4 linked regions of the Homo sapiens genome follow. The protein of the gene in region 4 interacts with the protein of the main gene of each other region in a pairwise test. Each region holds a gene or a part of one and is shown on either strand. Other genes may lie near its edges.

Evidence for each region.
Region 1: the proteins of SH2D2A (region 4) and DCAF12L1 interact in binary tests that used the Homo sapiens proteins (3 or more experiments, as listed by UniProt).
Region 2: the proteins of SH2D2A (region 4) and TENT5B interact in binary tests that used the Homo sapiens proteins (3 or more experiments, as listed by UniProt).
Region 3: the proteins of SH2D2A (region 4) and FSBP interact in binary tests that used the Homo sapiens proteins (3 or more experiments, as listed by UniProt).

The regions. Positions count from the first base shown.
Region 1 is NC_000023.11:126,549,234-126,557,819, forward strand, and holds DCAF12L1 (DDB1- and CUL4-associated factor 12-like protein 1), read right to left. Parts: upstream 3,582-8,586; 5' UTR 3,376-3,581; coding exon 1,984-3,375; 3' UTR 1,962-1,983; intron 1,875-1,961; 3' UTR 150-1,874; downstream 1-149.
Region 2 is NC_000001.11:27,004,520-27,010,992, forward strand, and holds the end of TENT5B (terminal nucleotidyltransferase 5B), read right to left. Parts: intron 2,439-6,473; coding exon 1,425-2,438; 3' UTR 501-1,424; downstream 1-500. UniProt on the Homo sapiens protein: Catalyzes the transfer of one adenosine molecule from an ATP to an mRNA poly(A) tail bearing a 3'-OH terminal group in an ATP hydrolysis-dependent manner.
Region 3 is NC_000008.11:94,426,775-94,434,645, forward strand, and holds the end of FSBP (fibrinogen silencer-binding protein), read right to left. Parts: intron 5,883-7,871; coding exon 5,357-5,882; 3' UTR 942-5,356; downstream 1-941. UniProt on the Homo sapiens protein: Transcriptional repressor that down-regulates the expression of the fibrinogen gamma chain. Represses transcription of GSK3B gene promoter via its interaction with APBA1.
Region 4 is NC_000001.11:156,813,849-156,821,750, forward strand, and holds the start of SH2D2A (SH2 domain-containing protein 2A), read right to left. Parts: upstream 3,001-7,902; 5' UTR 2,861-3,000; coding exon 2,827-2,860; intron 2,610-2,826; exon of another isoform or gene 2,265-2,609; coding exon of another isoform or gene 2,247-2,264; coding exon 2,158-2,246; intron 1,991-2,157; coding exon of another isoform or gene 1,982-1,990; exon of another isoform or gene 1,902-1,981; intron 1,374-1,901; coding exon 1,189-1,373; intron 477-1,188; coding exon of another isoform or gene 447-476; coding exon 357-446; intron 169-356; coding exon 1-168. UniProt on the Homo sapiens protein: Could be a T-cell-specific adapter protein involved in the control of T-cell activation. May play a role in the CD4-p56-LCK-dependent signal transduction pathway. Could also play an important role in normal and pathological angiogenesis.

The sequences.
Region 1 (8,586 bases), on a different chromosome or scaffold from region 4:
CAGTGTCAACTAAGATTTATACATGTTCTTTCCTCTGCTAGTATCACATATGGGTAAGTTTATGAATGGATAAGCACAATAGCCTGACCTGGAAATAAATCAGGGCAAAGTTTACCAAAAAAGGGGGGAAAACACAACAGGATTCTATATTATTTAAGAGTAAATATTTATTTATTTATTGACTTAAAACTTTAAACTCTAGGTCTCCAGAGGCATTCAACCAGTACATATTTACTTATTGCCTTTTATTTGCTAAGTATTAGTGGAGAAATGAGGCAATATAAAGATGACAATTGTATTCTCTGTTCTCAAGACATTTACAACTGACTTGGAGACGCATGCACACAAATATATCTTACTGCTATATAACAACAATTATATTAGCCTTTATAACAATGGTTAGAAACAAAAGCTTACTTTTTGGTATTTCTTAAATGACTTTTAGTACAATTTATTATATTAAGTTGTTCGGATTTGTGACTGAACAGCAATGTTGTGTGTGTGCACCAAGATAGCATCTGAGTGCCCAAACATCTAAGGGAAAACAGACATAACAAATTACTAATCCTGGGTCAGCACAGCCTGGCCAGTTTTAGAAATGACAAATATTGCTTCTCACTTCCAGTAGTCTCACATATGGAGAAGTACAACCTGTTTTCATAGCAGTCCACAATTTATATTTATCTGCGCTCCAATATACTTTTCTTCAACCTCATCCTATTTATTTTAAATCTCACCTATCTTGAAACGAACTTCCTGTGTTCTTGATATTGCATACTATTACATTGAGAGTTATAACACCACTACTTTTTAACAACACGTTATACTTTAGGAAAGAATCTTTGAACTTCACAAAATAAAATCTTATTAAGAATCTTTTTTTCAGAATGTGCTATTTTTGGTCTTTGTTTTTTTTATTGTGAATTACCTCTTAAGCAGAATTGGAAAATGTTAAATATCCTCAAATATAACATTTTATAATAAAAACAGCAACAGCAAAAATATCTAGTCTATACCCTGGATCAGTATACATTCTGCCCAGCCTGCCATACATTCCACGTTTACATTTCCTGCTTTTCATGATGGCTCCAATGCCCTGTGCAAGTTTTTCAAACAACATACATTCAAATATATTCACAAGTCTTGATAGTACTAAGGCAACAAGTGAAAAAATACACATTCTTTTATCTATTTAAGGACAGGTGATAACAACTTAAATAAGTTTTGAAATAAAAAAAAATGGTTGTTTCAACTTTCAGGTTAATTCTGAAAATGCAATGAAGCAGAACCCCTGCACTCCTAAAGTGTTCCGACCAATTAGGAGTTTGATACAAGCACAAGATTCTATGATAACTTATTTTGAAAGAGAATAAACTTCAAAAAAGCACTTTAGCACCAACAACGTAAAAACTATATACACTAAGATCACAATTTGTAAATTAAGTGTTTCCAAACGTAGGTAATCTAGAACTTGGAATGTACTTTTCCAATTGAACAATGCTATAAAACTATGGTAAGCTCTCCAGAAAAGATGTAGGAACACCTTGCTTACTAGAAAATTTTCTCTTCGTATCTGCAATGAAAAATAACTGAAAACAATGCTGTTGTAATATTGGTAACGAGGAAAAACAAGGAAAACAAATATACATAACTGAAAGACCATGACTGCATCTTCTTAAAGAAACAGAATGTATGAATCACTCAAAGAGAGAATGCAACTAAAGATTAACGATTAACCAAATTTCTTTGTATGAAAATTCCAAAAGATGGTGTTGGAAAGGAGTCAAAAAGTCTTAAAGCCAAGTTTTCATTGACCAAAGGACCACTCACTCTCTCTGCTTGGAGGAGTACAAATTAAGCTGGGCTGGTTCCACCTGGAAAACAAAAGACGCACAGAGTTAAAAGCAAAAAAATGCAGCATGAAGGGCAGTCGGGCGGAACTGAAAGGTAAATCTGTGTACCTGGAGTACAAGGCGGTCATCCTTAGCTCCAGAGGCCTGCATAGTTCCCATGGAGGCCTGCAGGGAGAGGCCCCCCAGCCACAAAGAGCTTCATCTCAGGCCAGTTGTAGCAGTGGGTGTAGAGCGCATTGGGAAACACTTCCATGCCACCAAAGTAATTCACCCAGAAATCATTGTGGTTGAGCCAGCCTCTGCCACAGGCAAGCCTGAGCTTCCTCCTTGCAGGTCCCGAAGAGGACTCCAGGGTGGCGGAGGCTCTTTCCTCCAGGAATTTCTGGGCCCGGACGTCATAGAAGAGCAGGGAGCCCTGACCGGTGCCCACAGTGATGATGTGGCGGTAGAAGCTCAGCGACCGCACGCCTGTGCCACCCTCTCGAGAACACAGGGGCCGGATGTTCTGCTGGTCCTGGCGCAGATCCAGGAAAGAGACGTGGGAATGGGAGCCCACGGCGTACACAGACATATCATCACAGTAGGTCAGGCACACATTATCCCGGAAGTAGGGCAGCCTGATGGACAGCAGCCTGGATAGTGCGCTCCCGGCTTTCCACAGGTGGAAGTAGCCGTCCAAGGACACCGCTCCCAGTTCCTGGTTCTTGCCGCCGCAGGCCAGGGCCCGCACCTTGCGGTTACTGGGGTTGATGATGGCCCTGGGGATGGCCTCCACATCCCTCGGACGGATGTGGGCATATACGGGGAGACCCACCTCGCTATGCCAGGCAACAGTGTCATCGAACTTGTCCGGGTCCATCCGCCACAGCGCCACAGTGCCGTCGCGGGAGCCGCTCACGGCTACGGTGTCACTCAGCCAGGCGACGGCGAAGATCCAGTCCTTGTGGCCATGGCGGTCGCCCAGGCACAGGGGATCCAGGGAGGGCAGCTGGTAGATGGCCAGGCTGTTGGGGTTTTCGCCGCCGGTGGCCAGAAGCGTCTTGGAGGGATTCAGCTCGATGGCATGGATGCCGCAGCCCTGTTGGTCCTGGGCCAGCCTGGCCTCACTGTCCCGCAAGAGGGGAATGCGCGCGATGTGGCCTGACTCCACGTCCACCACGAAAAGCGTGTTACACTTGGTGCCGCACACCACCTGCCTGGAGTTCAGCCACTGTGACGCGAACACCTTGTTGACCGTGCCCAGCTCCAGTTGGCGCTCCGTCAGCAGCTCGGGCAGCCTCTGTACCGCGTAGCCCCGCAGCTCGCCATCGAAGCCCTGGAGCCTGGCGGGGCCCCACCCGCCTACCTCCCGAACCTTCAGATAGTGCGCCATCGAGCGATACGTCGCCGGCCGCCTCTGCCTCTTGAGTAGCAGCGGCCCCTCACCGTCCGCTGCCGCCAAGCCCTGCGACGGCGAGCTCTCGGCGTCCGCCTCGACCGCGGGCGCTTTCCGTTTCCTGCTACCTGTTTGCTGCTGGGCCATGGTGGGCGGCGGGCGAGCGGCGGCGGCAAGGCGTTGGTGGCGGTTGCAGCGCGTGGCTCCGGAGTCGGTCGTGGCGGCGGCGTGGATGGCTGCGCTGGAACCGAGCCTTCGGATTCTGAGGCGCGGCAGTGGCGGACCGGGTGAGGGACGCGCGGGAGAGGGCGGCGGTGGCGGTGCAGACCTAGGCGAAGGCGGGAAGTGCGTCTGGCCGGGCAGTGAGAGCAAAGTCAGCGTGCGGCGAGATCGACGCGGGGGGCCGAGTGGGAGGGGCGGAGGCAGTGGGAGGAGCAGGCGGTCGGGCAGGCGGTTGTGAGCGCGTGGGGTGCCTGAGGAGTAGCTGAGGCCGGGCGGGGTGAAGGCTGGGAGGGACAGGGAGGGGAGGGGGTAGCGGAGCTGCAAGGGCAGAGTCTAGGAGGGCCCGCAAGCCAGGATCCCAAGTATCAGACACGCGGCATTTCGCTACCCTCAGGACAACAGCTAACTACCCTTCTTAAAATCCCTACTTCAATAAAATCTGAAACCTACGATATAGTCAAGCACGGGGCTAGAAGGAGCCCAGGCCACGATCTGTCTGGAGAAACCAGTGTGCACTTGGTGTAATCCTGGGACACCCTTCGCTAAGATTAGACATTAAACTTGGCAAGGGATGGGGGATTCGGCAGCGCAGGGAGACCTTTACCCATATGTCAGACCTGCAACCCCTCAAGTTTCAGCCCCTCAGTTGATGTCTTAAACAGTTTCAAACAAATATTTTTTCCCTCCTCAAATTGAGGTCTCTGAGCTACTGCCACAGTCCCTTGAGGAGTACAATCCAAATGCAAATCCCTGGGACCCACATTTGGCCCATGGTGATATCAGCGAACACTTGGTTTGGTGCAGCCTTGAGAAAATGGTAGGCTGTACTAATGGGGGAGGAATCCTGAGGGGCTTTTTGGAGGTGTTTGCTTCCTTTGAGCCTCAGAGCCCTAAGGAGAGGGAGTGGAAGGATCCTGAGAGGGGGACCTCTTCCCCACTCCTGAGAAGCAAAGTTAATATCCCTGTTGTCAGTCCCAGAGGCGCCCAAGCAGAGTCCCTGGGACCTTGGGACAGGGTCTAGAGGCAGAGGATTTTCACGTGCAGAGAACATAACGTTCCAGAAGAAGGCAACAACGTGGATACAATGATGCAAGTTTAGAGGTTCTGTGCATGAATAACTTCTCAGAGTTCATAAAGTTCTTATCCAGTTCTGCTGCTTCAGAGCAGCCAGTCAGGTGGCAGGCGCAAACGGGGCATACTCAGTTACCCAGTGATTTCAGTTACACAGTGATACATTGGGGAGAGAGGGCAGTGAGAACAAAGTCAGTGTGTGGACAGATCCACGAGGAAAGCCAAGCGGGAGGGGCTGAGGCAGTGGGAAGAGCAGGCGAGTGGGCAGGCCGGCCTGAGGGTGTGGGGTGCTGACACCTGCGGTGATTAATTTACTTCCTGATCAGGGAAAACCATAAGAGTTATTTTGTTGCTGCTTCTCCCCAACCCCCTCTTTATTTTTCTGGTTTTCTGTCCCCTTCCCCCATCCCTTTTTGCAACTTCGCCTCAAGTGCACAAATTCCAAGTAAAAGCCATAGGTCCTTCTCACCACTCCAATCCAGCAGCTGCCTTCCAGTGTACCCCAACACTCCCTTGCACCTCACTTTTGATTCCTCCCCATATCATTCATCCTATAGCAATAGAAAGGCTGCATCTGCTGGTGGTAATAGTGAACATGAAATCAGGGACAGGTACATAGAGGAAGCTGCATTTTGTTTCCACACGTGGACACAAATGGGATGAATGGACATTTTAGAAAGAGGCAACCATATGTGAAAAGGCACAGATAGTGCAAAGGATTGTTTCGTGAATTTTAGTGTACATTAACATCTCAGGAGCAGCTTAATAGATGTGCATATCCTTTGATTCTATCCCTAAAGATTTGATGCAAATGATCAGTGGACAATTATTTGAGAAACACTGGTCTACACTCCTCTCACTCAGGTGGGAACAGGATGTGTTGCAGGTAGGAGGAGATAAATATCTTCATGTACTTCAGGGTTACCCTGAAAATGGGCCTTATCCAGGTGAATATTGTGCAAGAATTGGGAATTAAAAAGATTATGATGATGTAGATGTCAGAGCAAAGAGTGGCCCAGGGAGGAAAATTGTACCTATTATGCATGTAGAACTTAACTATTCTTTACTATTGCCTTACACCTTTACTATATTGTTATATTAACAGGCATTGCTGCAAGTGAGGCAGGAGAATAGGGTCTGGAGGCAGGGAACCTAAGGCCCTTTCACGCTGACTTCCTGGAATTAAACTGAAAAGAAACCCTAACTTTCCACGCCTAAATAACAAAAGGACCAGAGGCTACTCCCTTTACATACCCCCACTTTTTCTGCGTCCTCAGATGGGAAATTAAAAGTACCTCTGATTGGTTGCTTTTTGCAACCAGTCAGATGTTTGCATAGGAGTGTATCGATGTAACTTCACTTCAGCCTCTGATTGGTTACTTTCTGCAACTAATCAGACTGATTGTGGGTCATCCCTTCATTTACATGAGGTGAGTGCCAAGTAGCCATTGGGAAACCTCCAGAGCATATTTGGACACGAGGAGATTCTGTATCCGGGGCCCTTGAGTCGCTGCTGGGGCCCGCTCCCACACTGTAGAATGTACTTTCATCTTCAATAAATCCCTGCTTTCGTTCTTTCATTGCTTCATTCTTTCCTTGCTTTGCTATGTGTTTTGTCCAATTATTTGTTCAGAATGCCAAGAGCCTGGGCAAGTTGCAGTCAAGACCCTCTACTGGTAACACAAGAACAAATATTGTCTCATTTAATCCAACCTTATAATAGTGGTAACCACTAATATTATTAGCCCCATATGAGGACATTGAGGCTTGGAGAGGTTATGATTTTGTCCAAAGTAAATGAATTATTAAGTCATCCCAAGTAGCTTGATTCCATATTCCATGTTCTTATTCACTTCCCAGAGACTGGAGAAATTCCAGGGATTGAGTAAAAGACTCTGCTAGTGATTGATACGCCTCACTTCCTTGCAGCACAGATGATGGGATATGACTATGGAACATCTGTTGAAGTTGGGTACTAGGAGTAAAAACACTAAGCCAGCTGTCAGGGGTTTGGAGATTCATTTTGTGATTAGTGTCAAGTCCTGCTGAAAAGAACTGCTCCACAGGAGCAGGAAGGACCAGTGTAGGTCATCTTGATGTCATCTTGCAGCAGATGAACAGTAAGGGTATCCATAACAAACAAGAAGAACTAAGGACCACAATCAACTTATTTTTCCTGGGACCAAGTAAGCATCACAAGTCTAATAGGATCCCATAGAAAAAGGAAGGAACTTTTGAAATTTTACTGATATTGGCCTTTCTACCAGCCAAGTGTGTGTAGCTTGAACTCAAATGCCATTCGACTTAGGAAAGTAAAGAAATGTGCTATATATTCCTCTTATTTTTCATGAAACACGATAATATCCATTACCCAAGGCTTACAAAAGGAGAGGGATTTCTATGCTCTGGGGGATGAGGTACCACAGATAGTAGAGTGGAAACCCCTTAGAAACTTAACACTGTCCCCAAGTCATAATGCAGTGCTCTTCTGTTTGTAGTGGTGGAGGGTGGATATTATAAATGTCTAAATCATGGAGATAGAAGAAAAGAGATTTCCAGTTCTGGCCAAGACAGAGTAAACCCATTCTTTCAAGGTCCTCCCTCTTCAAACTGAAAAAATTCTGGACATAGCACAACTTTAAGAAGTCTCTGAAAGTTGAAAGTAAGCTGGATGAACAAAGGACCACAGAATTTGAGGAAATTCGGGGTAGTGAGTTCCCTGGGTGTCTTTATTGTGTCCCTTATATATTGGCCAGAAAGTTGCAGGAGGCTCTAACCCAGAACCATGAATAGGCAAAGATAATAAAAGCTCCAACAATAGCCTGTTGTCCATAGGCAAAGGATCTGGAAAACAGAGGCCTAATTGCAGAAAAGCATTTTTTTTTTTTTGGCAATACCCATCCTACTGCAGCTAAACATCAACAGAAAAACTACCCTACCTCACTCTACCACAGACTGTTTCAGTGTGTGGCCAAGTAGGGAGCTGGTCTTCCATTCTCTCCATGGCAGAAGTAGGTGTTATACTCCTTGCAGGGGTAGTGTCAGTGTGGTCCAGTAGTAAACTCAGCCTCCACTCACATCTGGTCAGCAAGGAGAAGGTTTGAGAAGTGGCTCATCACCACTATGCTTCACACCCCTCCTCTTCGCCAATTTCAGTAAGGCTCAGTGACAAGCTGAGCTTCCATTCACATTTAGTATCAATGAGTCTGAATAAAGCAGTGAGATTCAGAGCTAGTCAGTTCTCCACCATCCTTGACTCCTGGTGTCAGCGGTAACTGAACCTCTACACACACTCAGCAGGAAAAAGGACTGAATAAGGAGGTGGGAAGTAGGGCTAAGTCTTGCTCCGAAGAAATAATGAAATACATACACCTACAGATTCAAGAAACTAAGTGAACACATATAGTATAAGCCCAAATAAATCCACACCAAGACACAGTATAATTAAATCTCTGAAAAAAAATCATAAAATAAAACAGACAAATGGCACATTAACTACAGGGCAAAACCAGATCAAATGACGCCAGATTTCTTATCTGAAACCACAAGGCCAGAAGGAAGTGCTGAAATAAAACATGCCAACCACACATTCCACATGTAGCAAAATTATTCAGGAATGGGGTGAAATAAAGACATTCTCAGATGAAGGAAAACAAAGAATTTGTTGCTAAAAAAAAATACACAACCCTTGAAAAATGGCTAAAGGAAGTTGTCTAAGCAGAAAGGTATTCATAAAAGAAAACTTGGAATTTTAAAAGGAAAAGAAGAATATCAAATGGGTAAAAACATAATTAAACATAATAGGCTTTTCTACTTCTCATGAGTTTCTTAAATCATATTTGATGATTGAAGGAAAACTTATGACACTATCTGATATAGCACTCAATGTATGTAGAAGGAATATTTAAGAAAATGATATTTTAAAGTATGGGAAATAAAAGGACTTTATAGAAAGTAAGGTCTATACACCTCATTCAAAGTGCTAAAACACTGATAACAGTATACTATGATAAATTACATGTGTCTATATTGTTACCTAGAGCAATAACAAAAATACAAACTGAT
Region 2 (6,473 bases), about 130 Mb from region 4:
AGCCTCTCCCAAATAGAGGCCCTACCTGGGCTCAGGCTTAGGGGGAACCCTACAAGTTCCCCAGTCTCAGCCACCTTTACTGGAGGGGCCTCCAGTCCAGATTCACCCAGCCTGTTCTCTAGCTGCTCCCTTGGAAGAGACGGGGTAGACAGAGCTGGGAACAAGTACCCCTGAGCACCAGAGTCTGAGTCTAGGCCCAGAGCTATTTGGATTCCAGGTAGAAAACATAAAAATATTTACTCCTTAACAAGAGCCCTAGACCTGCTAAGGCAACGTGCAGGTCACACATGTAGACAGCAGCTCTTAATATACAGCTGGTCAGGCTGCGGCTGGGGTTGGGAGAAGGAGGGGCAGTCCCCCAGCCATAGCCCAGGCTTCAAACCCCGCCCCCGCAAATGCTCCCTTCCACAGTACAAGCCAGACTCCAACTGGGGGAGGCAGCTGCAACCCCCACTGCTACGGAAGGTCCTTCTTTCCCCAGAGGAAGCATGGCACTAAGGTTCAGTGTAGACCGTCTTTATTGGCAGGTGTTAAGAGTGCAAAATATCAACAAACCCAGGGGAATACGCAAGGGGGTGGGAGTATGGCTCCCCTACCCCATGTGAGAGCCCTGTAACCAAGCCAGTGGGGTGGGAACGTTGACTTGACTGTGGCAAATTCAGGCTCAGCACCTTCCAAAGAACAAGCTCCCAGGCAGGAGGGCTCCTTGCAACACAAGGGGGAAAGGAGTGGCACCCTGGAAGGGGCCTGGGCTGCGACCCACCCTGGGCTGCTTGGCTCCTGTATACTGCCCACCTCAACCCCTCAAGAGGAAGGCTTCACAGCTGGGGGTATGTAGTTCAGAGAACCGGGCTAAACCCAGCCCTCCCCAAACCCAGGTATCTGCCTCGGGCCTCAGTTTCCCTCCTCCCAGTGATTACCCAAGTTGGCCCATCAGGCCCTGTAGTGGCCCAGCCTGATCCAAAGTGACAAGTCCCTGTAACATACCATGTATCAGTCAGTGTGTGGGCTGCAGGCCCTCCAAAGCTGCTGGGATCACCACAGGCTGGCCTTAGTCAAAAAGACCCTCTTAGACCATGGGAATCAATCCAAGGTGCTGGGCATTAAGGCTACCACCCCAAACTTGCTTTGTCTCCTGAAGGAAATTGACTTCCAAGACAAATGGCGCCTGCACCCCACCGGCATGCTGGTCCAAAAGTGTGATGCAATAACCAAAGGGTCCTCCTGCTGAGAGCCCCAGGCTGGCATTAAGCCCACAGGGGCCTCGTGCTCGGGAAAGTCTGGTCTGTTCAATCAAAGGCCCAACCCTGCAGTGCTGGGCCTCCTGGCACATTCTGCGCCTCTGGTCATGTCCTCCACACACTCTTGGAGGCCCCACCCCACCCCGTGAGGCCCAGTCCCTTCCCTTCTGGCCAGGGTCTGAGTCAGTTACAAGGCAGCCAGGTGGGATAGGCGTGAGCCAGGAGAGGTTGCACGGGGGTCACGTAGTAATTGACAGTGGCTGGCACAACCCCGTCAGTGCCTGGAGGGCGCCAGGCCAGGGCGGCAGTGGCAGCTGGGCCCTGCTCAGCCAGTGCCTGCAGCGCCAGTGCGGCAATGAGGTCCAGCGTCTGGCGGCGCTCGTGGTTCATGAGGCACACGGTGCTCTCGTTGACCACCCGGTGCAGTGTCACCAGGCAGGCGTAACGGCGGGCTGCATCTGCCCCACCGAAGTGGGCCTCCAGGTAGCGCTCTAGGGTGCGCCGCTGCTCCACCAGGTCTGGAAAGTCGATGAAGAAGCGGGAGCACATGTAGCGCTGCAGGGCGCGCACATCGGTGCTGGGCCGGGGCCGGAAGCCCCGCACCAGGAGGTGGCAGTACTTGAGGAGGCCACCACCTCGGATCTCCTCGGGACTGCGCGTGGCGATGACACGGTGCCGCAGGTGCTCCAGGGCCTCGGTGAAGTCCCCGTACAGGCTTTCGCCTGTGACCGTTGGGTGGAAGGCCTCAGACATGGGAGTGGACGAGCACTGGCCAAAGAGCAACAGGGAGTCCAGGATGATCTGGAAGGAGTCTATGCTGAATTCAAACTGGCGTCTCACCGAGTCCACAAACTTGAGCTCCACGTTCTTGCCGCTCTTGTTGGACAGTGAGATGAGGCTCCAGCGGTCCGAGTCTGTGCACACTTTCACCAGCTTCTGCACGTATGCCTCCTTGAGTGTCAGTGGCGTGATCTTGGCCCGGCTCACACCGGCCGGCAGGAAGTCTAGTAGGCAGGCCAGCACCACTGCCTTGGTCAGCTGGAAGGATGCCTCACTGCGCAGGTCCACCCGGAACACCAGGTCCAGATCCTTGTAGCCCAGGCCACTCTCAGGGTGCAGCACGTGGCTGGCAGCTGAACCATGCAGCCGCACACTGTGCACATGTAGTCCCTGCTCCTCCAGGGTGCTGCGGACCACCTGCAGGGGAGAGCAGGAAGGAGAGGTGTCAGGAGCGGGCCTCAGGGGTCCACCAAGGACTTCCGTTTACTTATCACGGTAACTTCAACCACTATTGGCCCCTAACCAGCTGTTATGCCTTTGGAAAATCATTTAACTTTTTTTTTTATTGGGTGGGGGTGGGGGGGTTGGGGGGGAGTCATTTAACTCTTTAAACCTAATCTGAGAATGGCCCATCTGGAGGAATGACTCAGGAAGAATAGCAATGATAATAGCACACATCTGCATAGAATTTACTAAACAGCAGGTCACTTAATCCTCACAATAACCCTGTGAGGTGGATACTATTATTCACACTTTACAGATGCAAAAATGGAAGTACAGAGGGGCCAAGTAACTAGCTCAAAGGCAAACAGCTGGTGAATGCAGAGCTGGGAATAAAACTCCGAGTCCAAGTCTTTTTTTTTTTTTTTGAGATGGAGTCTCACTTTGCCACTCAGGTTGGAGTGCAGTGGCGTGATCTCGACTCACTGCAACCTCCGTCCCCCGAGTTCAAGTGATTCTCCTGCCTCAGCCTCCCGAGTAGTTGGGATTACAGGGGCCTGCCACTGTGCCCGGCTAATTTTTGTATTTTTAGTAGAGACAGGGTTTCACCATCTTGGCCAGGCTGGTCTTTAACTCCTGACCTCGTGATCCACACACCTCCCAAAGTGCTGGGATTATAGGCGTGAGCCACCGCGCTCGGTGGTTTAAGTCTTAACCGTGCTATTCTACCTCTCAAACTGCTAGTAAAACAGTTCTGTATCAGGCACTGTGCTAACTGCTCAAACGTGTTGGGAATATGGTTAGCAGTTCACATTCATGACCACATTAACCCTCCCCATAATCCTACATTTGAGTATTATTTTGACTGATAGATGGAGGACCTCAGGTGCAGAGAGGTAAAGTCAAGGTCACAGAGCGGTCAGGCTGAGACCAGAACCCAGGTTAGTTGGGATTCTCAAGTTCACCTATGTCCTTTTGACTACAATGCACTCATCCTAACTCATCCTTACAAGGACCCAGTGAGGCAAAAATTATATACTTTTTTTGCTCTCGGATGAGGAAACTGAGGCTTACAGTGGTGAAACAGCTAAGGCTCAGTGAAAACTCTCAGCCTTCAGACAGTCCCCAGGCCTGATGGCACAGGACAGATAAACCTATAAGTGGTCCCTCCGCTGAGGTACCAGGTAGGGAGAAGAGTGAAGCTGGGGGTTGGGGACATTCAGTTTTCTCAGTAACCCAAAGTTGTCCTGAAAGTGACCAGGCAGCATTCCTGTCCTGAGTGATTCTGCAACCCTGCCTTGCTGCCAAGTCAGCACCCAGCTCCAGACCAGGCTGTTCTCCTTGCCTCCCAGGGAATTACTACAAAGAATGCACCTAAGTGCTGAGAAGGCAAGCTGTGGTGGGGCAATCAGAGGCGGGCGGCGCCCTCCAGGAAGACTTCCGGGAGGAGCAACTTTACCAGGGGAAGATATTGTCATGGCAATGGGAGGGTAAGCAACTGGCCACAAGGAACACGGAGAATGGGGCGTAAGCAGCTGGCCATCAGGAACACAGAGGGTGGCAGAAGGAGGCTAGGCATCTAATGAGTGCCGAGCACTGGACCTTGTTGCCAGAATCTATGGGGACAGGTGTCTTTTTTTTTTTGAGTCTGAGTCTGTCATCCAGGCTGGAGTGCAGTGGTGCAGTCTCAGCTCACTGCAACCTCCGCCTCCCAGGTTCAAGTGATTCTTCTGCCTCAGCCTCCCGAATAGTTGGGATTACAGGCGCCCATCACCACACTCAGCTAATTTTTGTATTTTTAGTAGAGAGAGGGTTTCACCATGTTGGCCAAGCTGGTCTTGAACTCCTGACCTCAGGTGATCCACCTGCCGCAGCTTCCCGAAGTACTGGGATTACAGGCATGAGGTACTATGCCAGGCCAAGTCTTTTTTTTTTTAATATGGAATTTTTTTCTGCCTTTCCAAACCCTTCTCTACCTTCCTTTCCTCCATCCTTCTTTTTTTTTTTTTTTTTTTTTTTTTTTTTTTGAGAGAGTCCTGATTTTGTAGCTGAGGGTGGAATGCAGTGAATGCAGTGGCACGATCTCAGCTCACTGCAACCTCAGCCTCCCAAGTAGGTGGGACTACAGGTGCGTGCGTGCCACCACACCCAGCAATTTTTTATTGTTTACAGTGATGGAATCCTGCCAGATTGCCCAGGCTGGTCTCGAACTCCCGGACTCAAGCTATTCCCCTGCCTCAGCCTCCCAAAGTGCTGGGATTACAGGCGTGAGACACTGTGCCTGGCCCAGGACAGGTCTCCTGGGAAACTGAAGCTCACAGGAGTGATGTCACTTGCACAAGATCACGTGGAGATGCCTTCAAACCCAGGGATGGCCAACAGCAAAGCCTATCCTGTTTCTACCACATTACAGTCCCAGGGTTCAGAAGGAGCAGACTAGTGTTCTAATCCACCTTCCCTTTCTAAATTTCAAAGCAAAGGCAACCCTCAAGCTACTGAAGCCCAGAGCCAGAATAGTTGGGGAACAGGAAGGTGAGGGTTGGGAGATGCCTTGGCCAGACAAGGCCAGTTGCTGCAGTCCAGCCTGTGGGACTTCTAACCCACACCCTGTCAGCTGGCAGCTGTGCCTGCATGGGCCAAAGACCTTGGTCCAAGGACCCTACCAAACCTGCAGAGAAGACCAGCCCCTTCCTCAGATCCCATTAGGGCTGACTGAGCCTTACTCAGTGCCAGCTCCTGCTCCCAGGCTGGTGCCCACCCCAGGGCTTGGCATCTGGCCTAGTGAGTAGGTAGCAGTACTCTTGTTAAATCCCCTGCGTCAGGGCCATGGGGCCAGCTGTGTCAGCCAGCCAGTCGCTGTTGTCTCCTTCCCAGGTGTGACTACAGCCAGTTTGGCAGACGGTCACCAGATACCACCACACCCAAGTACTGCAGGGCAGCTTGGTGCCTCCTGAATCAGACTTTCCAGCCATGGAGGGGGCAGTGGCTGCACCCTCCTTTCTCCCATGCCAAGGCCCTCCCCACAACCACTCTGCTCCAGGCTGCTGCTGAGACCTGCAGGGAGACTGACAGACGCCGTCAGCCAGCAGGCTTACAAAACTCACATGCTCTGCCGCCTGATGCAGGCCCTCTGGCTGCAGCTGGAGAAATCAGATTGTCTAGTTCAATCCTCTGGGCCCAGAGAAGGCAAAGGACTTGTCCAAGGTTACACAACCAATAAAAGGCCTCCCTGCCTGTAGCTCTGGGAAGGCTCCTTACAGTAGGGTGAGTCCCTTTAGTACAGGTACAAGCAAGAACAGAATCTCTAGCCACTCAGATTGCCACTACAGGCAAAGCCTTGCAGGGGGGTAGAGGGAGAAAGGTTCCAATTTTTGAGCCATAGGACAACTCAGCAGCAGTGAAAAGCCCCAAGGCAACAACCGACACCACCCTCCCCCTCTCCCCGCCCCCATCCCTGCACACATCCCAACAGCTTTAGAAGCTGCCAGCTGTGGATTTCTTCCAAGAAACTTTCTTCGCTGTGGAGGCAGCTGTACAGACCAGGTGAAGGCACCTGTCCCCTTTGGAGTCTGGAACCAGAGAGGGTGTTGGAGAGCAGCAGCCTAATCTATCCATCCCAGTTGAACAGATGGGGACACTGAGCCCAGCAAAGAGAATTGACAACAAACAGTCCAGGGCCTGAATCCAGAAGTCCAACTTCCCAGCCCAGCTCTGAAGTCTCTGCTGCCCTTCCTCACCATCGCCGACAGCTCCCTGTTCTGTGCTATCTCTGACCCAGGTCTAGAAGGACATGGCACCACCATTGCATTGTAAAGTTAGCTTCTATTGACCTGGAGTCTCCCCCATCTGGCTAGGAGCACCTGAAGGGATGGAGGCTGAGTCCTAGTCACATCTGTGCCCTTGGTTTCCTAAACAGGGCTTGGCACAGAGCAGACACCAAGAGGCAATCTGAGCCATACTGACAGGGCAAGGACTTCTCCTCCTTCCAGGGTATCCCTTGTTCTTGCAGAG
Region 3 (7,871 bases), on a different chromosome or scaffold from region 4:
TACACAGTTGTAGATCAAAACTCACCAAATGGTATATTTTAAATTTGTGCATTTCACTGTATGCAAATCTTACCTAAAAAACACACATGCACAAATAAATAGTGAACTCTAGTAATACTCATGCTGAAGTACTTAAGGGTAAATTATTCTAACTCTACAACTTGTTTCGAAGTAACATTTTTCCTTTAAAAAAAAGAATTGATGGATAAATAGGTGATGAAGCCAAGTATAGCAAAACATTAATTGCAGAATCTATGTGGTAGATATATGGATACTTACTATAACTATCTTTTCACTTTTTCTGTATGTTTGAAAGGTTTCTTAATGTTAGGGGAAAAAAAACTTTGTAACAGAGGTGAATTCACACATAAATTTTAAAACAAAAAAGACCTGCTAGCAAAGTGGAATTATAATGATATATCCTTTTAGTTTAAGTTGTCAGGACTGATATGAGCGATATTTTTATTTTTATTTTTATTTACTCATTTATTTTGCTTTCCACTATTACAAAGCAATTGGAAACTAAAAATAAATAATATGTTCAAATTATAACTACTAGCTTTAATCAATATAAAAGATTTATAAAAATATATTGAACAATTTCTCAAAATCGTATACAAAGATTTTGCTTGACTGTTAATGTTTAATTAGATTGCATATTCTAAGAACTTACTCTTGTTTAAGTATGCAACCATATTTCATCTAATTACTTTTAAGTGTTTACAATCAAATTCACCATCAAATATTTGATTTTGAGAAGCTGTGGCTCTTAACATTTGAAAAAAGAAATGAAATGTGATATTTAGATATGGTACATTGGCCATCTATTATAACATAATCATCTAAATAAATGTATTTCAATTATACCTCATCAAAAAATTTTACCTCTACAGTACTGAATTATTTGTCTTAACGGCACACAAAAAAAGTACACAAATCAGTACAAAGTAGTATCTTGTATTTAAAAGAACATGTGTTAACAAAGCATTTAACCATCATTATCTACAGTATATATTAAACACAATTTATTACACTCTAAGTTATTTAAACATGTGTATTTAAAAGTTGACATTACTCCAAAAGAAGGCACATGAAAAAAACTCATAGTTTAAACATTTTCACATAAGTAAAGATAGAACAGGGTAGAATGACTCCTTAAAAAAAAAAATGAAATAACACCAAGTTAATATCTCATCATACACAAAAGAAAAATACTTGACTATTTTAAGAAATCTGGTATTCGTTAGAAATGAGTTTCACTGACTTTTCTCAGGATGTCATTATAAATCACAGCTAGTTTAGAAAATCATAAGTTGTAACAACATATCCATTACATTCATATGGATAAGAGAAAGATAGGAAAGTGGCTATCCACTATCTAAATTACTAATATATTGGATGAAATAATCTATATACTTAGTATATTTATCAAATGTAGTATATTTCTACAGAATCAAGTCTACATTTAAAAAACAAAATCACTCTTCTCTATGTTCTCCCAGCATTACATTTTGTAATTAAAGCTCATGGACCCCAAACAATTGTCTATGATATGCAAGATGTCTGGTGGCTTAAGTGTATAGTCATCCCTCAGTATCCAAGGGGGATTGGTTTCAGGACACCCCCTACCCCATCAAGATCCACAGATACTCAAGTCCCTTATATAAAATGTTTGTATTCACATACAATTTACACACATCCTTCCATATACTTTAAATCATCTCTAGATTACTTACAATGGCTAATATAATGTAAATACTATGTAAATAGTTGTTAGGATACAGGACAAGTGAGCCCCAAAACTGGGGATTAGCCCAACTCCTACCTCAGTTATACCGTCTTTTTAAATTTCGTATTACTTTTTATTGTTGTACTGTTATTTATTTTTCTGCCTGAATATTTTCAATCCACAGTAGTTCAATCTGCAGATGTGAAACCTGCAGATAGAAAGCCAAGTGTACATTCCATTGTACTAGCAAACTTTCCCCTATATATTCCCCTTAATGAAACTTGTCCTCAACAAAAACTGCTAATGTTAGTTGGTAAGTAGTCCCCTAACTCAAAAAAGTCTCAATACAAAAAAGAAGAAAAAAAAAGGTTTGGTTCCAAATTACCCTAAGATACTCTGTAAGATAATAAACAGCCTCGGAAAAGGATTCTATGGTCAAATAAATAATTTTCTTTATACAGGAATTCTCATAAACTATACTATGTTAATCATGGTTATACAAGGGGAGGTAGACAATGAGGAGAATTATATGCATTTAAACTTTTGCAAATTAAAAGTAAACAAGACTGACTTGGAGAAAAACAAGATTGACTTGGAAAAGTTGCTGCAGTAAACTCAAAGAGTGTGATTCTGGTGTTTAAAAATATGTAAAAATAGGTTTCTTATTGTATACAGCCCCTAAATGCTAATGAATTGTGTCACCTAACACACTAAAGAAAAAGCAATCTTAAACAATGCTGCAGAAAAATATGATTGTAGCAGACTATGTTTATGCTATTTTATGGGCAGCAAAGGAATTTTCAAGGGCTATTTTGTATATACATAATTTTTACCTTCCACAATTATTTTAGAACCTAACCACCAAAAATAAAAAAGATGTATACTGCACTTTTTTTTAACACAGATCTCTTTTCTAGAAACATCTCACAGAATTAATGTTCCACAGAACACACTTGGGAAAACTCTGATTTGCTGTAAAAGCCAACATTTAAATTGAACATTCATTATCAATTCTTAGTAGCATGCTGAAACTGTAAAGTGAATTACATCTCATATATGTGCTTTCAATAATTTCAAAAAATAAAGCTTACTACTGCCAAGATGTGTTTACTAGAATTATACTGGGAAACATTACCTCAAATTAAGAATTACAAGATTCATTAGACTCAAAGAAAAGTCATAGCACAGATTAAAGAGAAAAGGTAACATTGTCAAAAGGATATATCAAGTTATATATTCAGGACATCTTTATAATTAAAGAAGTTAACTCTACCAGCTATAAAACACCCTCTTTTTAATCCAACCAATGAAATTAAGTAGTCAACATGCTAAAATAGTACCTTGAGTTCATTTTTTTCTATTTCTATAGCCATAACTTAAATTTCTGATTTAAGTTCTTCCAATACAATGCCTGTCCCTAAATGCCACTCCTCCTAAATCACAACTATAATCAAATTAGCCCTCTAATTCAAAGCATTCAATGGCTTCTCATTGTACGTTAAGTCTGACTCATTAAAAATAGTATTTAGGCTGGGCACGGTGGCTCAAGCCTGTAATCCCAGCACTTTGGGAGGCCGAGGCGGGCAGATCACGAGGTCAGGAGATCAAGACCATCCTGGCTAACACAGTGAAACCCCGTCTCTACTAAAAACACAAAAAATTAGCCAGGCATGGTGGTGCGCCTGTAGTCCCAGCTACTTGGGAAGCTGAAGCAGGAGAATCGCTTGAACCCAGGAAACGGAGATTGCAGTGAGCCAACATCGCACCACTGCACTCCAACCTAGGTGACAAAGCAAGACTCCATCTCAAAAAAAAAAAAAAAAAGTATTTAATGTAATTCATAATCTGGTATCAACCATCATCCAAATTTATATCCCTCAGTTCACTTTCAACTACTCTTCGACAAAAATTTTGAGACTAGTATGATTTAGGCACCAAGCGAGGTTCCAAAATACTCTGTTTCACTGGTTCTCAAACTTTAGCATGCATCAGAATCGCTAAAGGGTTTATTAAAAGAGATTGCTGACACCCCCAGGGTTTCTAATTCACTTGGAAATGGATTTACATTTCTAACAAGTTCTCAAGTGATGCTGATGCTGCTGGTCAGGACCCATACTTGGAAAACCATTGGTCTACTCCAAAGGCCACAAAGTGGAAGCCCAATGGCTCAGTGAGGCCCACTCACATGTTGTCTGTATAATGTTTTAAAAGCATTTTGTGTTATTTGCAAACATTTTAAAATTGGAAGATTCCTCATTAAAAAATGCAGATTTCTGGTTTATCCCCGCATGTGAAAATTCTGCTGGAGCTAAACAGCAGCTACCCTACCTAGTCCAGGGAGATGTCCTTCCTAGTCCAGGATACTACAGCCCAAATTGACTCTCTCTACATTCACTTAAAATCAATGGCTTAGCACTGCATTTGTGCTTATATACTCAATCCACTTTTTCCCATTCTTTTGTCTTTTTTCCAGCGTCTCACTCTTGACTTCAAACACCCATGGTCCCCTTCACTGCTGAAATTACACCCACCCCATTCTACAACTTGGCTTAAAAATCCCTTCTCAACAAAACCCCAGCAAAAATAGAAATTCTTAAGTAACATACATATTAGAGATTTAATATAAATTTAATATGTATGCTTTAAGAATTGAGGTTTTATTTCCATGAATACTAAAATAACAATACTTATAAAATACATAAAATTTTAATTTTGTTCATTCTGATTTTTACTGTGAAAGAAATTTTTTCCAGAACAGGACATTCAAAATGAATTAAGACATGTCTTTAAATCACACAGCCAAAATATATAATAGCTTCAATGGAATACCTTATCTATTTTGCTGGAACAAAAATAGAGAGAGAATGGGGGTAATTGATGTAATTATCCTGATTTCACAACCTAACAATCTTTAAAGGCAATTTTAATGAAAGAAATGCTTCTAATATTTAAATCTAGAGAATGTTTTAGTGGATATTTACTTCTATCGAATAGCGGGATGGAAATTACACAAAGAAAAACTAAGTGCTGGTCTCTGCTCTGCCATAAATAGCTTTGTTACCCTAAGTAAGTCATTGAGTTCTCCCTGGACCTGTTTCATTACCCCTAAACTGCAGAGATGGAAAAAAAGTGTTCTCCAAATATCTTCCATCTCTAAAATCCTAGGATTTACTCCTTCAAAAGATAAAAGCATAAAAACCAATGTCATACAGACAAGCTTCTTGGTATTAGGTTAGTATAGCTCCTAAATTAGACTGACTTAAAAATCTCTAATTATAGCTTTCAAAGTTCTAACTAAAAATGTTGAAGACTCAGAACTTTGAAAGAATATGTGTTTGTATATGCATTTGTGTATATCTTAGTGATCAGAATAAAATATCTTTTGTAAGGTCAACAATTAAACTTAGGGAAAAAAAAAAGAAGACAATAAAAACTATAACCATGCCAACCAACCAGTAAATTTTAATATCTCAAAAGAAAATAATTAGAAAATTATATCTAAAAAGTTTTTCCATAATAGAGATTAACAACATTTTTCAAGAACGTGTATTCTGTTTCAGGATATTCCCAAATTAAAGTAATTTGGCCAAAATCAAAATTATCAAATTGCAAGATTGAAAAAAAAACTTAGAGACTGTTATATTCAGGTAGATCATGCCGTAAGCGAATTGCTTTCAGCTTCTCCACTTCAATTTTTGCTCTTAGTAGCTCTTCCTCTAGCTGCTGCCTTCTTTTCAATCCATCCCTCTTCTCCTGAACATACAATCCAAAATTTTTTTGATTTTCTAAAATTATCTGATGCTCCTCTTTCAACATTTGCAGGATCTGAGGATCATACCCTAATAGTGACCTAAAGTGTTCACCACTCTCATGCCGAAAAAAATCATCTCTCCTTGGAATAGAAGATGGAGACGATGTCATTCTCATATCAACAGAGGAAAGTGAAGGCGACAAGGATCTTTCCATAACATGTACTAATTCATGTTCTTCTCTTTGCTCTAAAGTATCACTCTGTTGAGAATTTAAAACCAGTGGAGGAGGTGGTTTAATGTCTTCTTCTTGCTTCACCTCCACTGTAATAGCAACAGGATGGTGATCCAACATTACCTGTAGTGAACTGGTACCAGCCTGTGCCTCCTCATCCAAGTTTGCACTATAGCACACAAAAAAGCATTATAATATGTAAATCAAATGAAGAAAAAGTGTATATTTATAGCATAATTTTAATTTAATGTACATTAAATGATAAAGCTTTAAAACTATAAAGTTACAAAATAAAAAAAAATCTTAAACACTTGAAATACATTAAAGTGACTAAGATTGGGATTTCAATAATACATACTCACAGATCTCCCCCATCCTTAACTTTAAAATTGTGCTTTAAAGGAGCAGGAAATTACAAATATTATAGAAGGCCAATGAAGAAAATAAAAAGAAAAGCCAGTTTTCATGTTGTCAAACAGACACCAATCTTTCCCACAACCCTAAGGTTTTCAAATGGTGTACAGAGCCATTTAATGCATTCTCAGTCTTGTTATCCCCATACCTTAGCCCTAGACCTCAGGCTTCTGCTCTCCTGGACTGATCTTAAAACCATGAAGGCCCATAACTTATAAAAGGACAGTGAAAGGCCATCTATGGGAGGTACTGATTTCTGCATTTGCCCAAAAAATAAAACATAAAGATTGTATATGGCTTTGGGATATGCTCAACTACTGGAGGTTATCCTAACTTTCTTATTTCAGATGCTTTTATCTGATAGGAAAAACTTCCGTTTTACCTATTCTGAACCATATGACTCAGATGCTGTTTAAGTCTTTCAATCACTGGTCAGGTAAAGTTCACAAGAGCAATGGTTTTAATCCACAACTGTATACTCAGTACCTAGCAGGTACTGTACTTAGAACCTAGTAGGTGCTCATTATGTGTTGAATGACTGAAAAAAAACAAACTAAATGATTTTTTAATGAAACATTTTTAATGGCCTATACAGATATATTAAAGGTTTATTAAATTTACACATAATTTCCACCAAATATGCATTCCCAATGGAGACAACTACAGCTTTAGCATAATTTAAGCTTCAGCATAACAAGTTATGATATTATAAATGCAATAAACCTTAAAATTCTGTTTTATAAACATAATTTTATGTATAACGTGAAGCTGTGAATTAAGAATATCTGCTCCTTGAGGTTGTTTTTTTTAATTTATGCTTCTGCCTAACTTAAAAATAAAAGTTATAAAGGGAAATTAGATCATTGAACATGAATGGAAATACTTTATTTAATATTATTTAGAGAAGATTTTACATATAATAAGAAACATAATTAAAAGAATACATTCTACATGGATGATTAAAATGCTGGAACAAGTTCAAGCAGAATGCATAGAAAAAGATTAAAACTACCCATACGTTACTTACTAATGCCATTAAATTGCCAGAAATATCAGATATTTATCTAAGAGACAAAATGAAACATATATAGTATATAATAAAAAATCTATTTGTAGGTTATATAAATTCATTTTTGTTCTTGTCTCTGTTTGTGTCATTTTATTATTTCCAAAAACAAAACAATTAATTATAAATGTAATTCAAAGTAGCAAGCTCTGCTTCTATTAATAGCTCTGCTAAAACCTGGAATGGGAAAAGGCTAAAATTGCATATGAAAATTAAGTTTTTAAAACCACATAATTACTATTTCAAATTAGTATGTAAAATAGAGAGTATAAACATAGACATAATACTACCAAGTAAATTAAAAATATGCCTCATATCTGGAACATTCCTTTCCATTTTAGCTAAAACATTACAACTAAGGCATAACAATATAAAAAGGGAGAAAAAAAGCTTTAGAGCAGGTCACAAAAATGACAGAGAAGGACTTGAGAATCAGAACTTTGAAGATCAGTTTACAAAAACACAAAATATAAACTGATATTAGGAAGAGGTAAAAATAAAGACATAAGTCAATGTGAGTTACAGAAAATAAATAGCCTTACAAAACAGGTATATATTTTTAAGTATGTTAACGCAAACACTAGTATTTTCCTTATTAAAAAGGAAGAGTTTGGTAAGATTAACAGGCATATTTATGTAGAAGTATAGTTAAGATTATAGAATAATTATAAACTTCTG
Region 4 (7,902 bases):
TGTCGGGCGAGGGGCTCGGTGAGCGTCTCCCCGTAGGGGCTGAGCGGGTGCGCGGTGTAGTGCAGCAGCAGGTCCTGCAGCCGCGCGTGGGCGCTGTCCTCGCCCAGCACCACGTGGCGCCCGTCCCTGAGCTGGGCCAGCAGGAAGTGGCGGCAGCAAGTCCGGCTCCTGGAGGGCGCCGTTAGGGATCAGACTATCTCCCGCTCCTCGGCCAGGGTCACCAGCGAGAGGCGTGATCCCCACCTTCAGCAGCCCGGGGAATGAGCTAAGAGCCCGGCTCCTCACGGGATCAGACCCAAGCCCCGCCCCTCCCGAGCCCCGCCTTGTGTCGCCCGGCGCGGGGCCTCGCCCCTCACCTGTAAGTCAGCACGAAGGTCACCGCGCTCTCGCTGAACCGCACCAAGTAGCACCCCTGAGGCTTGGGCTCCAGCAGCCTCTCTGCCTCCCTGTGGGTGACGGAGAGAGGGGGCCGAACCCTGCTCTGACACTTCCAGCCTCGCCTCTGTCTCCCCGGCTCTCACGAGGAACCCCTACCCCCAAGCAAGCATGCTGGAGCGGCTAGAGAAAGGCTAGGGCGGAGATGGGGAGAGAGAGCACGTGGGCGCTGCTCTCCCGCTGCAGGGATTAGGCGTGGACAGGGGCCAGGGGTCCCATTCAGGAGACCCCCGCATCCTCCCCTGGCCTCATCCTGAAAGGGCAGCCTGCAGGGGCTGCTACTGCAGCTACAGGGATGGGAAAGTAGTTGGACTTCCAGATTTCAGAAGTCAAAGCTGAACTGAGGAGGTGAACAAAGAGTTAGGGAGAAATGAGGCTGAGAAATGGAGGAGGGAGATTCTGCAAGGGTGGAAGAAGAGAGGGCTGGGAGATAAAGATGGAGTAAGCCTGGAGGGAGAGAGAGGTGGAAAATACCAGCATTCGAGGCCTTAGGGACAGGAGGATAATGGGGCCTAGAGAGGGGAAGCTGAGGTACACAGAGGGCTGGACTGGAGCCTCTCCAATGATCTCCCCTGGAGAGATGCCTCAGTGAAAGGCTAGGAAAACTCTGGGAGTGGGAGCCTGGAGTGGGCGCCTCCATCTACTCCAGACTGGTAGAAGTGGGAGCCTTCATCTATTCCTGGCAGGTGGCAGGACCCAGACCCAGGACTTGCCCTGCCCCTGTCTGGGCCAATTTCCTCCTCCATGACTCACCTCCGGGTGATGAAGCCATGGAACCAGGCAGGGGCTGCCCCGTGCTGCAGGAGCCAGTGGGCCTGGGTCTTCTGGAACCAAGCCCGGGTCTCGGCCTGCAGGAACAGGCTTCCTTCTCCAGGCACCTCCTCTGCCCTCTCAGCATTCCCTGTGTTGGAGGCAGCCTCCGGGGCCTGGGGAGATGCCTGGATCAGGGAAGAGTTCAAGGAGGGGGAAGCAGCATGATGAGTGGGCCTTCTCCTGACTTTGATCCACCTGCCACCTTCTTTTCCTCATACCCAGCCTCTCCTGTCTATTTTAGGGTACAATTGCCCAGAAAGTCCTTCCTAAAGTCTAACTTAAATCCCTTCTTCAGCTCCAGCTGTTCTGGCTTCCAGAGACTCTCCTTCCTTTGCCCTCTGGGTCCTGAGGGCTTTTAATCCAGCAGCAGTGAGCTGTCACACTGTGCTCTAGGAGGGGCGGGAAAGGCAGCACAGCCTTCCAGATGGACAGAGTCATTCCCTGGCCTGGAGGATGAAGAAACATGATGCAGGAAGTCACCCTAGAGGCCAGAATGAGGGAGGGCTTACTTCATAATATGAGGGACTGACCTAGTTCGCAGGGAAAATTATTGACTGGGCAGGAGAGAAGGACTGAGACGGGAATGTGGAATGCACTGGGCAAATGGTCACTGACACAGAGTGCAGATGCCTGCTTCTGGGACTCAATGCACTGCACCCTGGTCATCTGCGGACTCAGCCTGAGCTTCCAGAGGGCCTAGGAGCAGTAAGGGAGTGAGTGGGCAACTCGGCGCATGAAGGAGGTACTCCTCATTTTCGTTCTCTCTCTCTGTGCCCCAGCCCGTTGGCAGACCCGGATCATTCCTGCCTTCTCTTGGAGTGGCCTTTGTCCATCTGCAAGTCCTTCCCCATGGGAGGGTGGGAGAGATGAGGGAGCTGCACCACGCTGCCGCCCCAGGTTTCCACTCACCGCAGTGTAGCCCAGGTTCTGGCAGCTCCTGCGGGTCATGTCTGTGATCTGGAAGGTGCTGAAGGTTGGGATGGGGGCTTCGTGACTCCCTGTGAGCACAAAGAGGGCTGCCGGGGTTTCTCAGAGAGGAACTATGTCTGTCTCTGCCTCCCACCCCTCCTCCCAGGCTCAGGGGATCTGGAGGGCTGGGACAGTCTTAACGACAGGAAAAACGCAGAAGGGCAGCAGGGGAGTTTCTCAGGCATGAGGTTAAGTAGCCAAGGCGGCATGGGGGGCTAATGCTGCCAGAGGAGGTTGTGAGGGACACCAGGTGCCTAGAAGGAGAGGCTGGGAGTCAGGCTGGCCTTCGGATGGTCAGGGAGGCAGATCACTTCAGGGCAGGCCCTTCTTCTGGTCCAGGATCTTCTGCCTCCTTCTCCCTTCATCCTCCTGCTCCCTCCTCTCTCCTCTCTGAGAAGCCCTCAACAAACCCTGTCACCTTTATCCTCAGGGATGAGTGGGCATGGAGCCCCAGGCAGGGTTGTGGTCACCCTGCCAATCAGCTTTGCCAGCTCTGGCTTAGGGTGGGGCCCCTCATCCCTGAAGTGGGAGCTCAAGCCCAGGAGGGAGGGCAGGGGGATGGGGGTCTTTGTGCCCCCTCCCACCCATATCCTTCAACTTCACACTTACCTTGGGGACATATCTGGGCCAGGGGGAACTCCATGAGGGCAGCCTCACAAGGGATCCCAGAGCAGGGTGTGTGTATGTGTTCCGGAAAGGTGTGCACACTCAGCAACTCATCATCTCTCCTCTCACCCTGGCCCCGGGGGCAGGAAATGTCGCCTTACCCACAGCCTTAGTTCTGGCGAGGACTCACGTCATGGAAAGCCTTAAGACGATTGTCCCACCCCCGGAAGCCACGCAGCTGTAGATAGCGGTGGTATAGCGGTGGGGGGTATCTGTGTCACTCTGTGTTTAGGTGTTAGGAAGCCCTTACTGCTGCCTGACCTTCATCCCTCCAGATTCTTTCTCTGCCCCCTCACCCCAAACTAGAACTTCCCTTTCTCTCTCTCTCTCTCTCTCTCTCTCTCATCTCTCTTGGCTTCTATTTCTTTCTCTCTGGAAAATCTCCCACTCTGCCTCTTGGCCTGTTCTGAGCAGTGGGAATGGGGATGTCAACCTCAAGGATAAGCCACACAAGGTGCTTATGGATCATGCTTTGAGGAGACATGAGGAAGGGAGGGGGCAGGGCTGCAACAGGAAGGATGTGGGTCAGACTTCTGGAAGGACTTTTTGAGGACATGTGAAATCTATGAGTCTGGGCATGGTGGCTCATGCTTGTAATCCCAGTACTTTGGGAGGCTCAGGCGAGAGAATCGCTTGAGCCCAGGAGTTCATGATCAGCCCTGGGTAACATAGTGAGAGCCCATCACTATTTTTAAAATAATAATAATAATAGTAATAATAATAAAGAAATCTATAAGACAAGGGGTTAGAGAGGAGGGGGCCTGGCTTCCATCATTCAGCAGATAATGGAGCTGAGTTAGGGCAAAACCAGGCAATATTGGAGGAAGGAAAGAGAATTCCTCCAGCTAAGCAGGTCATCATTAGTATCAACACTATCAGCAGTTGTCATTAATAACATCAGTGTTGACATCTTTTTTTTTTTTTTTTTTGAGACAGAGTCTAGCTCTGTCACCCAGGCTGGACTGCAGTGGCACAATCTCAGCTCACTGCAACTTCCGCCTCCCAGGTTCAAGGGATTCTTGTGCCTCAGCCTCCCGAGTAGCTGGGATTACAGGCTTGTACCACCATGCCTGGCTAATTTTTGTATTTTTAGTAGAGACAGGGTTTCACCGTGTTGGCCAGGCTGGTCTTGAACTCCTGGCGTCAAGTGATCCACCCACCTCGGCCTCCCAAAGTGTTGGGATTACAGGCGTGAGCCACTGCACTGGCCAGTGTTAATGTCTTAAACTTTCAATGTGCTTAGACTTCCCACCATACCAAAGGACCAATCCCATTTCTCTCTGAATTTATCTTCACAAACTAAGAAGGGGACAGGAACATTATCCCCATTTACCAGAAGCTCAGAGGAGTGCCTTGGCCAGGGTCTTTCAGTGTCTGAGAAGTTGGTGTGAGTGCTGGGACTAGAAGGTAGACTTCCTTTCACTAATTTCACTGTGATTTAGGCCAAAGGTTCATGACTATGTGCTATGCACTGTTCTTGGTACTGAGAACCCAGAGAGGAAAAAAAAAACTTTGTTTCAAGATGTCAGATGGGGGAGATGGACTTGCCAAGACTTACTGTTTTTTAAAAAATTGTGTACTGTTTTTTTGCTTTTAAAAACATGCTCTAAATTTTTAATAATTTTTGGGGTACGGTTGGGTTTTGGCTACATGGATAAGTTACCTAGTGGTGATTTCTGAGATTTTAATGCACCTGGCACCCAAGCAGTGTACACTGTCCCCAATATGTAACCTTTTATTCCTCACCCAACCTTCCCCCCAAGTCCCCAAATTCCCTTATATCACTCTCATGCCTTTGTGTCCTCATAGCTTAGCTCCCACTAATAAGTGAGAACATACGATATTTGATTTTCCATTCCTGAGTTACTCCACTTAGAATAATGGCCTCCAGCTCCAACCAAGATACTGCAAAAGACATTATTTCGTTCTTTTTTTGGCTGAGTAGTATTCCATGATGCAGATATACCACATTTTCTTTATCCACTCATTGGTTGATGGGCACTTAGGTTGGTTTCATATCTTTGCAATTGCAAACTGTGCTGCTATAAACATGCGTGTGCATGTGTCTTTTTAATAGAATGACTTCTTTTCCTTTGAATAGACACCCAGTAGTGGGATTGCTGGAAATAATGGTATTTCTACTTTTGTTTTTTTAAGGAATCTCCATACTGTTTTTCATAGTGGTTTTACTAATTTACATTCCCACTAGCAATGTAAAACTGTTCCCTTTTCACCACATCCATGCCAACATCTATTTGTGTGTCTGTGTGTGTGTGTGTGTCCGTGTTTGAGATGAAGTCTCACTCTGTCACCCAGGCTGGAGTGCAATGGCGCTATCTCGGCTCACTGCAACCTCTGCCTCCCAGGTTCAAGTGATTCTCCTGCCTCAACCTCCCTTGTAGCTGGGACTACAGGTGAGCACCAACCATGCCTGGCTAATTTTTGTATTTTTAGTAGAAAATAATGGGGTTTCACCATGTTGGCCAGGCTGGTCTCGAACTCCTGACCTCAGGTGATCCCCCTGCCTCAGGCTCCCAAAGTGCTGGGATCACAGGCATAAGCCACCGCACCTCACCACATCTATTGTTTTTTGACTTTTTAATTATGGCCATTCTTGCAGAAATAAGGTGGTATCTCATTGTGATTTTAATTTGCATTTCCCTGATGATTGTGGTGTTGAGCATTTTTTCATATGTTTGTTGGCTGTTTGTATACTTTCTTTTGAGAAATGTCTATTCATGTCCTTTGCTCACTTTTTGATGGGATTATTATTTTTTTATTTTTATTTTTATTTTTATTATTTTTTTAGATGGAGTTTCGCTCTTGTTGCCCATGCTGGAGTGCAATGGCATAATCTCGGCTCACTGCACCTCCGCCTCTCAGGTTCAACAGATTCTCCTGCCTCAGCTTCCTGAGTAGCTGGGATTACAGGCATGCGCCACCATGCCTGGCTAATTTTGTATTTTTAGTAGAGATGGGGTTTCTCCATGTTGGTCAGGCTGGTCTGGAACTCCTGACCTCAGGTGATCCACCCGCTTTGACCTCCCAAATTGCTGGGATTACAGGCATGAGCCATCATGCCTGGCCTATTTGTTTTTTTCTTCCTGATTTGTTTGAGTTCCTTGAGATTCTGGGCACTGGGTGTTGTTGGATGCACAGCTTGAGAATGTTTTCTCCCACTCTGTGGATTGTCTGTTTACTCTGCTGATTACTTTTTTTTGCTATGCAGAAGCTTTTTAGTTTAATTAGTTCCCCATCTATTTATTTTTGTTCTTGTTGCATTTGCTTTTGGGGTCTTAGTCATGAATTCTTTGCCTAAGCCAATGTCCAGAAGAGTTTTTTGGATGTTATCTTCTAGAATTTTTATGGTTTCAGCCCTGAGATTTAAGTCTTTAATACATCTTGAGTTGATTTTTGTATAAGGAGAGAGATGGGGAACCAGTTTCATTCTTCTACATGTGGCTTGCCAGTTTACTCAGCACCATTTATTGAATAGGGTGTCCTTCCCCAATCTATTTATTTGTTTATTTTTTGAAACAGGGTCTCACTCTGTCACCAAGGCTGTAATGCAGTGGCACGATCTCGGCTCACTGCAGCCTCAACCTCCCGGGCTCAAGTGATCTTCTCACCTTAGTCTCCCAAGTAGTTGGGACTACAGGCATGCGCCACCACACATGGCTAATTTTTGTACTTTTTGTAGAGATGGGGTTTTGCCATGTTGCCCAGGCTGGTCTCGAACTCCTGGGCTCAAGCCATCTGCCTGCCTTGGCCTCCCAAAGTGCTGAGATTACAGGCGTGAGCCACCACATCCAGCCCCCCCAATGTATGTTTTTGTATGCTTTGTCAAAGATCAATTGGCTGTATGTATTTGGCTTTATTTCTGGGTTCTCTATTCTGTTCCATTGGTCTACATGCCTATTTTTATACCAGTACCATGCAGTTTTGATAACTATAGCCTTGTAGTTTAATTCGAAGTTGGATAATGTGATGCCTCCAGATTTGTTCTTTTTGCATAGTATTGCTTTGGCTATATGGGCTCTTTTTTGGTTCCATGTGAATTTTAGGATTGTTTTTTATAGTTCTGTGAAGAATGATGAAGGTATTTTGTTGGAAATTGCATTGAATCTGTAGATTGCTTTGGGCAGTATGGTCATTTTCACAATATTGATTCTTACCATCCATGAGGATGGACTGTGTTTCCATTTGTTTGTGTCATCTCTGATTTCTTTCAGCAGTGTTTTCTTTGTAGAGTTCCTTATAGAGTTTTCTTTGTAGAGTTCCTTGTAGTTTTCCTGGTAGAGATCTTTAACCTTCTTGGTTAAATATATTCCTAAGTTTTTTGTTTGTTTGTTTGTTTGTTTTTGCAGCTGTTGTAAAAGGGATTGAGTTATTGATTTGATTCTTAGGTTGGTCGTTGTTGGTGTACAGCAGCATTACTGACTTGTGTACACGGATTTTGTATCCTAAGACTTTACTGAATGTATCAGATCTAGGATCTTTATGGTTGAGTCTTTAGGGTTTTCTAGGTGTACCAGCATATTATTGGCAAACAGCAATAGTTTGACATCCAGTTTGATTTCCAATTTGGATGCCCTTTATTTCTTTCCCTTGTCTGATTGCTTTGGCAGCATTTTCCTAACAGATACTTACTAAAGCTTGTAGTGAGTTAGTGGTGTAGGCTGGTGCTACGGGAACCCCCCTCAGAGGCCCCCTAATTTAGCCTGTGTGTGTGTGTGTGTGTGTGTGTGTGTGTGTGTGTGTGTATGTGTAGGGGGTTGAGATGTCAGAAGACATGAGATTAAGCTGAGTTGTAGAGGATGAGTAGGATTGAAGAAGGTGGGGAAAGGTGTTTCTAGAAGAGGGACCAAGCTCAGAGTGGTGAGGAAAGGAGAAGTGCAGCAAAAAACAGACGCAAACAATGTTACTGCATTGGCTACTTCAAAATGAGCTGCAAAGTGCAGTGGCCAGTTGCTTGGTAAGCATTTCACTTGGCAAGGAGGACTTTCTTCAGACAGGGTG